Regions from separate parts of the Homo sapiens genome. Here region 2 is linked to region 1. The links come from fine-mapping of genetic effects on gene expression. A gene starts in region 1. The other region holds a variant in brackets. All regions are shown on one strand. Distances are between the middles of the regions.

Evidence for each region. PIP is the estimated chance that this variant, and not a neighbour inherited with it, causes the effect. A credible set is the group of variants that fine-mapping cannot tell apart.
Region 2: its variant is the best candidate, but not a certain one, in a credible set for the expression of GAP43 in lymphoblastoid cells (TwinsUK, PIP 0.55).

Annotation. Positions count from the first base shown.
Region 1 is chr3:115,621,262-115,625,660 of GRCh38, reverse strand. GAP43 (growth associated protein 43) reads right to left here and starts at 2,151. Exons shown (of 3, transcript NM_002045.4): 1 at 1,942-2,151. The coding sequence starts at 1,971.
Region 2 is chr3:115,650,982-115,655,380 of GRCh38, reverse strand. The region is part of intron 1 of GAP43 (growth associated protein 43); the gene reads right to left. Among named protein-coding and RNA genes, the nearest start is that of GAP43, 30 kb to the right of the region's middle. RefSeq lists a silencer at 4,081-4,190. The variant G/C (reference allele first, on the strand shown) is at 2,053.

The DNA of each region.
Region 1 (4,399 bases):
AAAAATCATACATGATTTCCTTTATTAAAGGAGATGTATGTATACTTGCATATGTACACATAGGGTGGGAACAAATTATGAACCTGAATATTTTTCTTTCCAAAATTAAAGCTTTTTAAGTGGATGGCTTTGGCTTACTTAGTGCTCCACCTTCCTAAATGTTATTTCCCCAGCTCACCAGTGAAATAACCTCAGGACTTTTCTTTGACAGTGTTCTTAACCCAGACACCTGTATTTATTACATTTATATATTAAAATGAAGGAGGACACAGAGAGAAAATGCCCTGGTTTGATAAAATGAGCCAATGGAAGCATCAATCTCTGTAACCATAGGGCAGTTTCAGGAGATGCTGCAAATACCGCCCCCAACTCAATCCCCCACTATCCGACTTTTTCCCCCAAATAGCCCCACACAATCCAGGATGTCTGCTTATTTATTTATTTATTTATTTATGCCAAATCTCTACTCCCACTGCTCTGACATTCTGCTTCAGTCTCCCATCCTCTTCCTGCTCCTTCTCCTTCATCCTCACTCCCCACCCTTCCTTCCAGGGCGCTGGCTAAATGTGCTAAGCTGGCAGGCTGTTTCTTCTCCACTCTCTTCCACCCCCTTCGGATTCAGGGAGTGTATTACAAATTGCCCAATTTCCAATACCTGCACTGGAAATTATACCCAAATTCCATCTCTTGCACCCCACCCCTAAGGCAATCAGTCTGCGAAGGGCTTCTTTGACCAAGATTGCCCCCACCACACCCCCACCCCCACCACAGTCAAGCATACGCACACACTCACCCGTATCCCACACCCATTTTTCTCTTTAACCTTTGCCAAAATCACTCAAATGCATTCCAACAAATGTTTGAAAGCTTCTTTTGGAGACTGCCATGGCATGGTCGGTTGCTGCGGAATACCACACTCGTCATTCCTTCCCACTCTCACCCCAATCAAGTTTCTAAAATGTCTTTCAAGAAATAAGCGAGCAATTGGAAATGGCTGTAAAACCTGGGCAGTGGGGGAGGGAAGGAGGGGCTCTGATTCTTGCTAATCTTGGATGTGTCCCTCTTCCTGATGAAAATGAGTCACCATACTTATTATCCAGGATGTTAGCCTGTCTCTGGTCACTGACAATCCCAGGAAAGAAGCAAGGGAAGGGGATAAGAGAAAAGACCTGGTTTCCAACAGGTAATACCCGGCTGTCTTTCCCATCCCATCGGAGCTCCTAGGGGCGTGGTCCACCCTCTCCTCCGACCAGCTGGTGCACAATCGGCTGCTGATCTTAGGAAGGGGATTTTCTCCTTCTGCATGGCCAATTTCTCCCCCAGCCCCAGTTGTCTTAGCTTCTCTTAAAAAAAAAAAAAATCTATCAAATCACAGTTTCATTCATTCATTGAAAAATAAATACTAAATAAATAAGACCTGCACGTTTTTCCATAAATACCTGCGCCCCTTCGAAGCTCATGCATGCACGAAATAAGGCATCTTCCGCAGCACATGTGAGAAAATTGTATGACAGAGAGGCAATACTCAGTTCTGAATATTATTTCCTCAACCCTGCTTTTTTGCAAATAATATAAAGAAATGCCTCCCCATCTTGTAGGTAGAGCCCACATCATCTCCCCCACACCCCTTTCTACGTCCACACCCTCAAGACCAGAGACCTCAAATGCTGAGCATTCACTAATAAGAAAAAAAAAAATTATTTCTAGCCAAACAGGCATGTTTTTTCTACCCTCACCCTAATTAGTAGCAGCATTCCAAAACCAGAGCATGAAAGACAGAAAAGAATAAAAGCTGGGATGCAACCATCAGTTACCATATGCTAAGGAAGCGCGAGCACCACGGCCAGAGCAGAAGCAGTAAAAAAATTGTTTGCCTTTACGGGGAAATACTGTACTCGGGTTATTTCACAACAGCAAGAAGTAAAAAATCTTTAGCTCTACCTGTTTGGTTCTTCTCATACAGCACAGCATGGTTGTCTCGTCCCTTGCCTTCTTCCTGCCTTCTCTCCTTTCCTTCTCTCTCTTTCTTATTCCCCCCCTCTCCACCTCTTTTCTGCTCGCTTGCTCACTCGCTCTCTCGCGCTAGCGCGCTCTCTCTCCCTCCCTCCCTCTCTCTCCCTCACACACACCAGGGCAGTTAGCAGCAACTGTAAGGTCCACAGCTATTGCTCATCGCACATGCTCGCTCCCTCTCTCTAGCGCTCTCTCTCTCTCTCCCTCTCTCTCTGGTGCTCTCTCTCCGCTGTCCTCTCTTCCCTCTCTTCTCCTTTTTTCTCCTTCCCCCCAATATCTATCTATCTGTCTTTTTCTTCCCTCTCTCTCCGTCTCTTTCTCGGAATTGTTCTCTAGCCTTCAGTGACTAATCACTTCCCCCAGCCCCTACCCCCATTCTAGACAGTCGCCCCCTCCCAGTCCCCTGCCAGCCTCATGAATATTTAAACACCTCCAATCTGGACCCAATTACCCACCGACTTTTCCACTGCATTGAGAGGGTGATGGGGTGGGGGCAGAGAAGGATATTCCAGTCAATCCAGGAGATATGATAGAGCATGTTTTAGGGAAGAGGGGCTTGAGGAATCCTTGTATTTCTTTAAGAACTCTTTTCCTCTTTTCCTAGTATTATAAAAGCAAAGAACAGCTATTTCTAAAGAGGAATTGTAGTCAGTCCTATACAATATAAGTCATATCTGCCATTACATTTTATGCATAGTTAATAATTGTGGAGGTTAATTTCCCTCAAAAAATGAAATAACATGTAAATATCATACACTGTTTATATATTCTTCTCAGTATACATATAACCTGAAATAAATACAAAGCTTAGATATGCACAAGCATATTTTATATATGTTCCAATATCCTGGAAAAAAATCCACATAAATATATTGCATTTTAAACATTCTAAGCACTTGAGCTCAGAAATAATAAACAATGTTTAAGAATTGGCATCCATATCTAAAATCACATGGTAGTTTTTTGTTTTTTCCTTAATGCACATATACCTGTTTGTAAATTGTGGTTTCTTCTAATTTTACTGAAAAAGCTGAGCACATTCAAACAGGTCTGTGTAATATTGACGGTGATCAAAATGATATTTTACAATTTGGGCATGAGAGATTAAAGTGAATTCATCTGAGATGAGAAGAAACGATAAGTCATGAAGCCTACTTCTTGAATTCCTTCTATGGCCTTTCATAATTTTGGGGGAGGAACATGTGACTCTTAAAGTGTGTATAGCACAATTTTTAGTTATTTATTGTTGAATGAGTTTGAGTGTGTTACTGAAGCTCTTTGCACCTAATTTTCTCATCTTTAAAATGGAGATAATAATGCCAATCTTGACAACATGTTTTGAGGACTAAATGATATAACGCATGCAAAGCACAACAGTCTCTCTGAGTGTATAATAGCTTTACTCCAGAGACTGTACTTTTCTGAAATTCGGGTGACATTTGCAAGTGAATATCTCAAAGAAGTTTTCAAACTATTTCTTGTTGTTCATTAGTGATGACAAGTACCCCTAATTAAACAGCTCATATTCTTCATAGTCCCTCCTAGACCTCCTAGACATAAACCTAGCTAATAAGTGGCAACTAGGCAGCTTATTGTTAGGCATATTTCAGGATCACTGAGCTCAATAAGTGCTTAGTACATTTTAACATAATTTAAGGTATATCTATTTCAAAATGGACTATCTCAGACAGGTACCTGGGAACGATGGTGATGATGATACCCAGGAGGTGATATTTAAAATTAGCCTTAATTATTCCTCAGGAGTCTTCCTGAGAGTGGCCTGCTTCAGATCCGCTGATTTGGTCTTTCATTCTTCTCAGTTTGCTTCCTAGTTTTCATATTTATGATTAAAAAACAGAATTAGTTTCTGAGTTTAATAATTTTTTAATGTTACAAGGAGCCCAGCCGCTTTCAGAACAGCCTTCCGTGATTTTAAGTGATAAAAGAGGACAAAGAGTGGGTGAGAAATGGCTCCTACCAGAAACATTCCGGTTGCAGATTAGGAACACCCTACCTAGCCTGCTAGTGGCTAAAGAGCAATGAAGGGAGGAGGCAGAGAATGTGGGGATTGGGGATGATGGAGAAGAAATTGCACCTTTTGGTGTTTAAACAGGATAACTCCATTGATAAGACCATTTCATTAACTATGTGGCCAAACTTAAAGAGTGGGACTAATTCCTTTCCCTTTCGATGTACTCACCTCAGCCATCCCATTTATATTTTTCCCCCTTTATATATGGGAAGGAACCTTGGAAACAAAGTGGCATAATGAAGTTAAACAAGCTAGGGCTTAAAACTGGGCACAAGCATTGATGAACTTTGTGACTAAATATGTGAAACCACCCAGCTCAGAATCAGCTTCCTCATCAGTTTACATGCATTATTT
Region 2 (4,399 bases), 30 kb before region 1:
GGGAAAAGCAAGTATCTACAACAAAATAAATTCATTAGCAGAAAGGATTTCATCTAATTCTTGTGTCCAAGGTAACATTGGCTTTTTAAATAAGGAACCATTGACTCTAGTTTCAGGAACCCTGATCCCTGCCAGACCCTTCAGCAATGAGTTTAGAAATATTCTGGTGTTCACAGATCGAAAATTTGACCACCTTGATGCAACCTGGCCTCACTAAAGTTTAGTCTATACCTAAGTTACACAGATCTCAGAGGTGTGTGGGGCATGAGAAGTTTCCTAATCCTACCCTCTACTCATACATATTTCTTGCCTGGAAAACTTTATAATCAAAGATTTATTACTACTTTCTTTAGATGTGGAGATTTGCCCAGTATCACTAGAAATTTTTAAATATACCAAACCATCTGAATCATTTCCTAGGTGTCTCTGGACTTCCCTGCTAGATGCCCCCCGTGAATTTCCATATTCTTTAAAAATCACCTCACTCAGTAATAGACAGTAATGAGACCTCTGCACAGAATGTTACAGCTGCACTGTACTGTGTACATTTCTGGAAAATGGACTTGGTATTATTTTCCCCCAAGAAACCACCAATTTACACATCTGTTCTTTGCAGCAGTGGATATAATTATCATGATGCTGTTTATAGGAACATGACCCTCTGAAGGGGCACTAGCTAAATATCTGTAAACAGGGATAAACATACTGTGTTTCTTTCTCAAGCAATTTGAGTAATTTTTGCTGGAGGAGAAAAAAAGCCATCTTTTGTCCAGCCAACGTTTGGCAGGATTCGCCTTTCTGAAAGTGTGACTGTGTGTGATTCGTTGTGCCCCAGGAAGGCAGATTTACTGAAGCACTCTTCTGACTCAGGAACATAGTGTTCAATTAAAACAGAGCTTTTAAAAAAAAGACTGCTAAGAAAGGTGAGCTGAAGTAGCATTGGGTCTGCTCATCTTTTCCTCAGATCTTCCTGGGATGAGCTGGGGTCTTTAGTAAGGACCATTTGTATTTTCTAAGTATCTTTCTCCAGAGAAGAACTTTTCAGATAAACTCTCCTCCTTTGCGGTTTCATCTACTGGATAAGTGGACAAGTGTGTGACTTGCTTAAGTTTATATTGAAATTGAGTAGAATAGTCAATATTTGAATCACTTGGTACTTCATTCTGAGCACCAGGCAATTCTGTTTTATATATATTGTGGCCAACTGATAAATTAAAGTGAAAACAATTGAAATATGGATGTATTTTTTACACCACAGCAGAAAACTTCAAATCTGTGAGAGTCAATTGACTTGAATTTTTCAGCCTTGAAAAAGGCAGAATCATCCAATCACAGAAGGAATGTGTAAATGCCTATAGACAGTGGATTTGGTGTTGGGGGAGTGGAAAGGGGAGATGTGGAGACCAATATTTCCTCTCTACTCTTGATCCATGTATTGTAGAAAATGTTCATTAGGGCTAATTTTTTTTTTAATTTCAGATGTTAAATATCTGAAAAGTGATACATGAATCTATCTTTCATAGGAAAATTCATTAAATATGAACAAGGCAAAGTGTTATTTTTAATATAATAGCAATACCTACATTTGGATGGCATTACTCAAACTCTAGGGCCAGTGCAGAGTGAGGACTTCAGAGATAAGGCCCAGAGGCAAGATTAGAAAACCTAACATACAACCAGGATTAAGAAGCATGTGGCATGTCTCTGAACGAGGGATTTGAACTAGATGGTCAAGTCTTTTTCAACTCATTAATTCTAAGAATCTGTAAACTTAGTCTTGGGAGAAATAAAAGTTTTAGGAGGCGCAGGTTACCCTTGGTGAAATAGTGGTATTTCACCCCGCCACACAAAGTAGGGGCAGACACCATTCTTCAAAAACTTTTTCTAGTCTCCTTTGACATTGGAAAAATTACCTTTTTATTTATTTTATTTTGTTTTTAAGACAGAGTCTCACTCTGTCGCCCAGGCTGGAGTGCAGTGGCAAGATCTCAACTCACTGCACCCTCCGCCTCCTAGGTTCAAGTGATTCTTGTGCTTCAGCCTCCCAAGTAG[G/C]TGGGATTACAGGCATGCGCCACCACACCCAGCTAATTTTTTTGTAATTTTAGTAGAGACAGGGTTTCACCATGTTGGCAAAGCTGGTCTTGAACTCCTGACTTCAAGTTATCTGCCCCCCTCAGCCTCCCAAAGTGCTGGGATTACAGGTATGAGCCACCGCACCTAGCCCAGTACCTCATATTTTGGGCAAAAAGACAAAAATTTATATGCCCTGTTGTCAGTATTCTCCCAGATGAGGTAGAGAAACCCAGTCTTGAAGTTTTAGCTCTGCCTTCCCTCTCATTTGAGTGTCTGCTTAGTCTAACCTAACTAGATCCTTCAACTTGCCTCATAATTTCTTTGGCTGGTAACTTCCTCTTTCAGAAGTTCTGAATAGCAGAACACATTCAGTTGCAGAGGTATATAAAATTGTACGGAATCCACTGTTAATAAGTTACAGAAATTCTCCTGTCAGTACATTTAGTAGCTACTATTTTGTCTCAAGACGGTGGTCTGAACCAAAATTACACTTCATATCTATTCATTTTCATCAAAATCTGTCAACCCTTTCAAAAATTACCACAGTGAGAAGTATATGCAAAATATTAGGAACTTAGGTGAAACGTCTTAATAAAAATCATTTATTGAACACTGCATAGGCGGCTGGGTGCAGAGGCTCATGCCTGTAGTCCCAGTGCTTTGTGAGGCTGGGGTGGGAGGATCACTTGAACTTAGGAGTTTGAGACCAGCCTGGGCAAGAGCAAGAACCTGTCTCTACAAAAAAGTTTTTAAAAATTAGCTGGGCATGGTGGCACATGCCTGTAGTCTCAGTCACTCGGGAAGCTGAAGTGGGAGAATTGCTTGATCCCAGAAGTTGAGGGTGTGGTGAGTTATGATGGTGCCACCACTGCACTTAAGCCTGGACAACAGAGCAAGACTCAACAGAGCAAGACTCTATCACAAAAAAAAAAAAAAAAAAAAAAAAAAAAAGAATGCTGGATAAGAATCATCAGGAATACAGGAATATAGAGATGTAGAAAATACGATTCTTTCCCTCAAAATAATTACTGTTTAAATATGGTAACAACAAATGAAAGAATTAAATAAATAATACAAAAGATAATATCTTCAGAATTAAATGAGCGGTACAGTTTATTTGTGGAGAATTCAAAGGGAAAGATGGATTTTGGGGAAAGGTGATGGACTCAGTTTCAATGGTAAATGTTTGGAAGGAACTAGACACCCAGTAAGCAACTAGAAGCATCTTAGTACAGGAAATATACACTTGAGTGTCTTTTATGAGAAGGTGATAGTTGAAGCTATGAAGGTGGAAGAAAATTCTAATTAAGAGAATTAAAAATAAAAGATCAGAAAAACTAAGATCATGTTTTTGTATCACCTCTATCTAGAAGACAGAGGAGAAAGTAAAACCAGCTTAGAGGAGGAGAGTAACAATTGAAGAGGGCCAGAACAGGGGCCAAGAATAGAGAGGATCCTAAGAAGTGTTCAGCACAGTCAATGCGAAAATGTTAAGTGAAGGCTGAGAAAGGTCTTTGCAAATATAAATTACAAGGCCACCAAGGACCTCAGGGAAAGCAATTTTAGAACAGTGGGGGAGGGAGGGAAGAACAGATTACATGTGTTTAAGAAAAGCACGGGCCAGATAAAAATGGAGGAAATTACTATATGCTTTTGAGGTGTTTATCAGAAAAAGGAAATAGAGAAACTACAACCTTCTGCTTCTGTGTTGGTAAATAAAATGGAATGCAGCAAGAGAAAAGAAAAATATAGAAATGTACATATGAACTGAGTTTAGGATAGATTTTTTCTCTTGATGCCGAGGTTAGGCATCAAATGAGGGTTCAAAGTTGACTCCCTCTCATCTAGATAACTGGTAGTAAAATTTATCTTGCCAAATGAACACAAAAATTCATGCAACAAATTAAAAACAAATGATATACTTTTCAAACACTAACTTAACTTTTCAAACAACAGGTCTTCCGTATGTGCAGAGTGTGCATGGATGTGTGTGTGTGAGAGAAAGAGGAAGAGAGACTTGACTTCATTTAGCAAGAAACTCATAATGTTGCAGAACCCCACCTCCACTGACCATGCTTCATTTACTGAGGGCCTGTTGGCATATGGGTTCCAAATAATAAAAGGTTTCTCAGTGTGACAGAATTGGATTTTACTTTCTTTATTATTATTATTATTGTTTTTTTCCAGACAGGGTCTCTTCCAGAGTGGAGTGCAATGGTACAATCACAGCTCACTGTGGCCTCCATCTCCTGGATTTAAACAATCCTCCCACCTCAGCCTCCCAAGTAGCTGGGACTACAGAGGCATGCCACAATGCCCAGCTAAT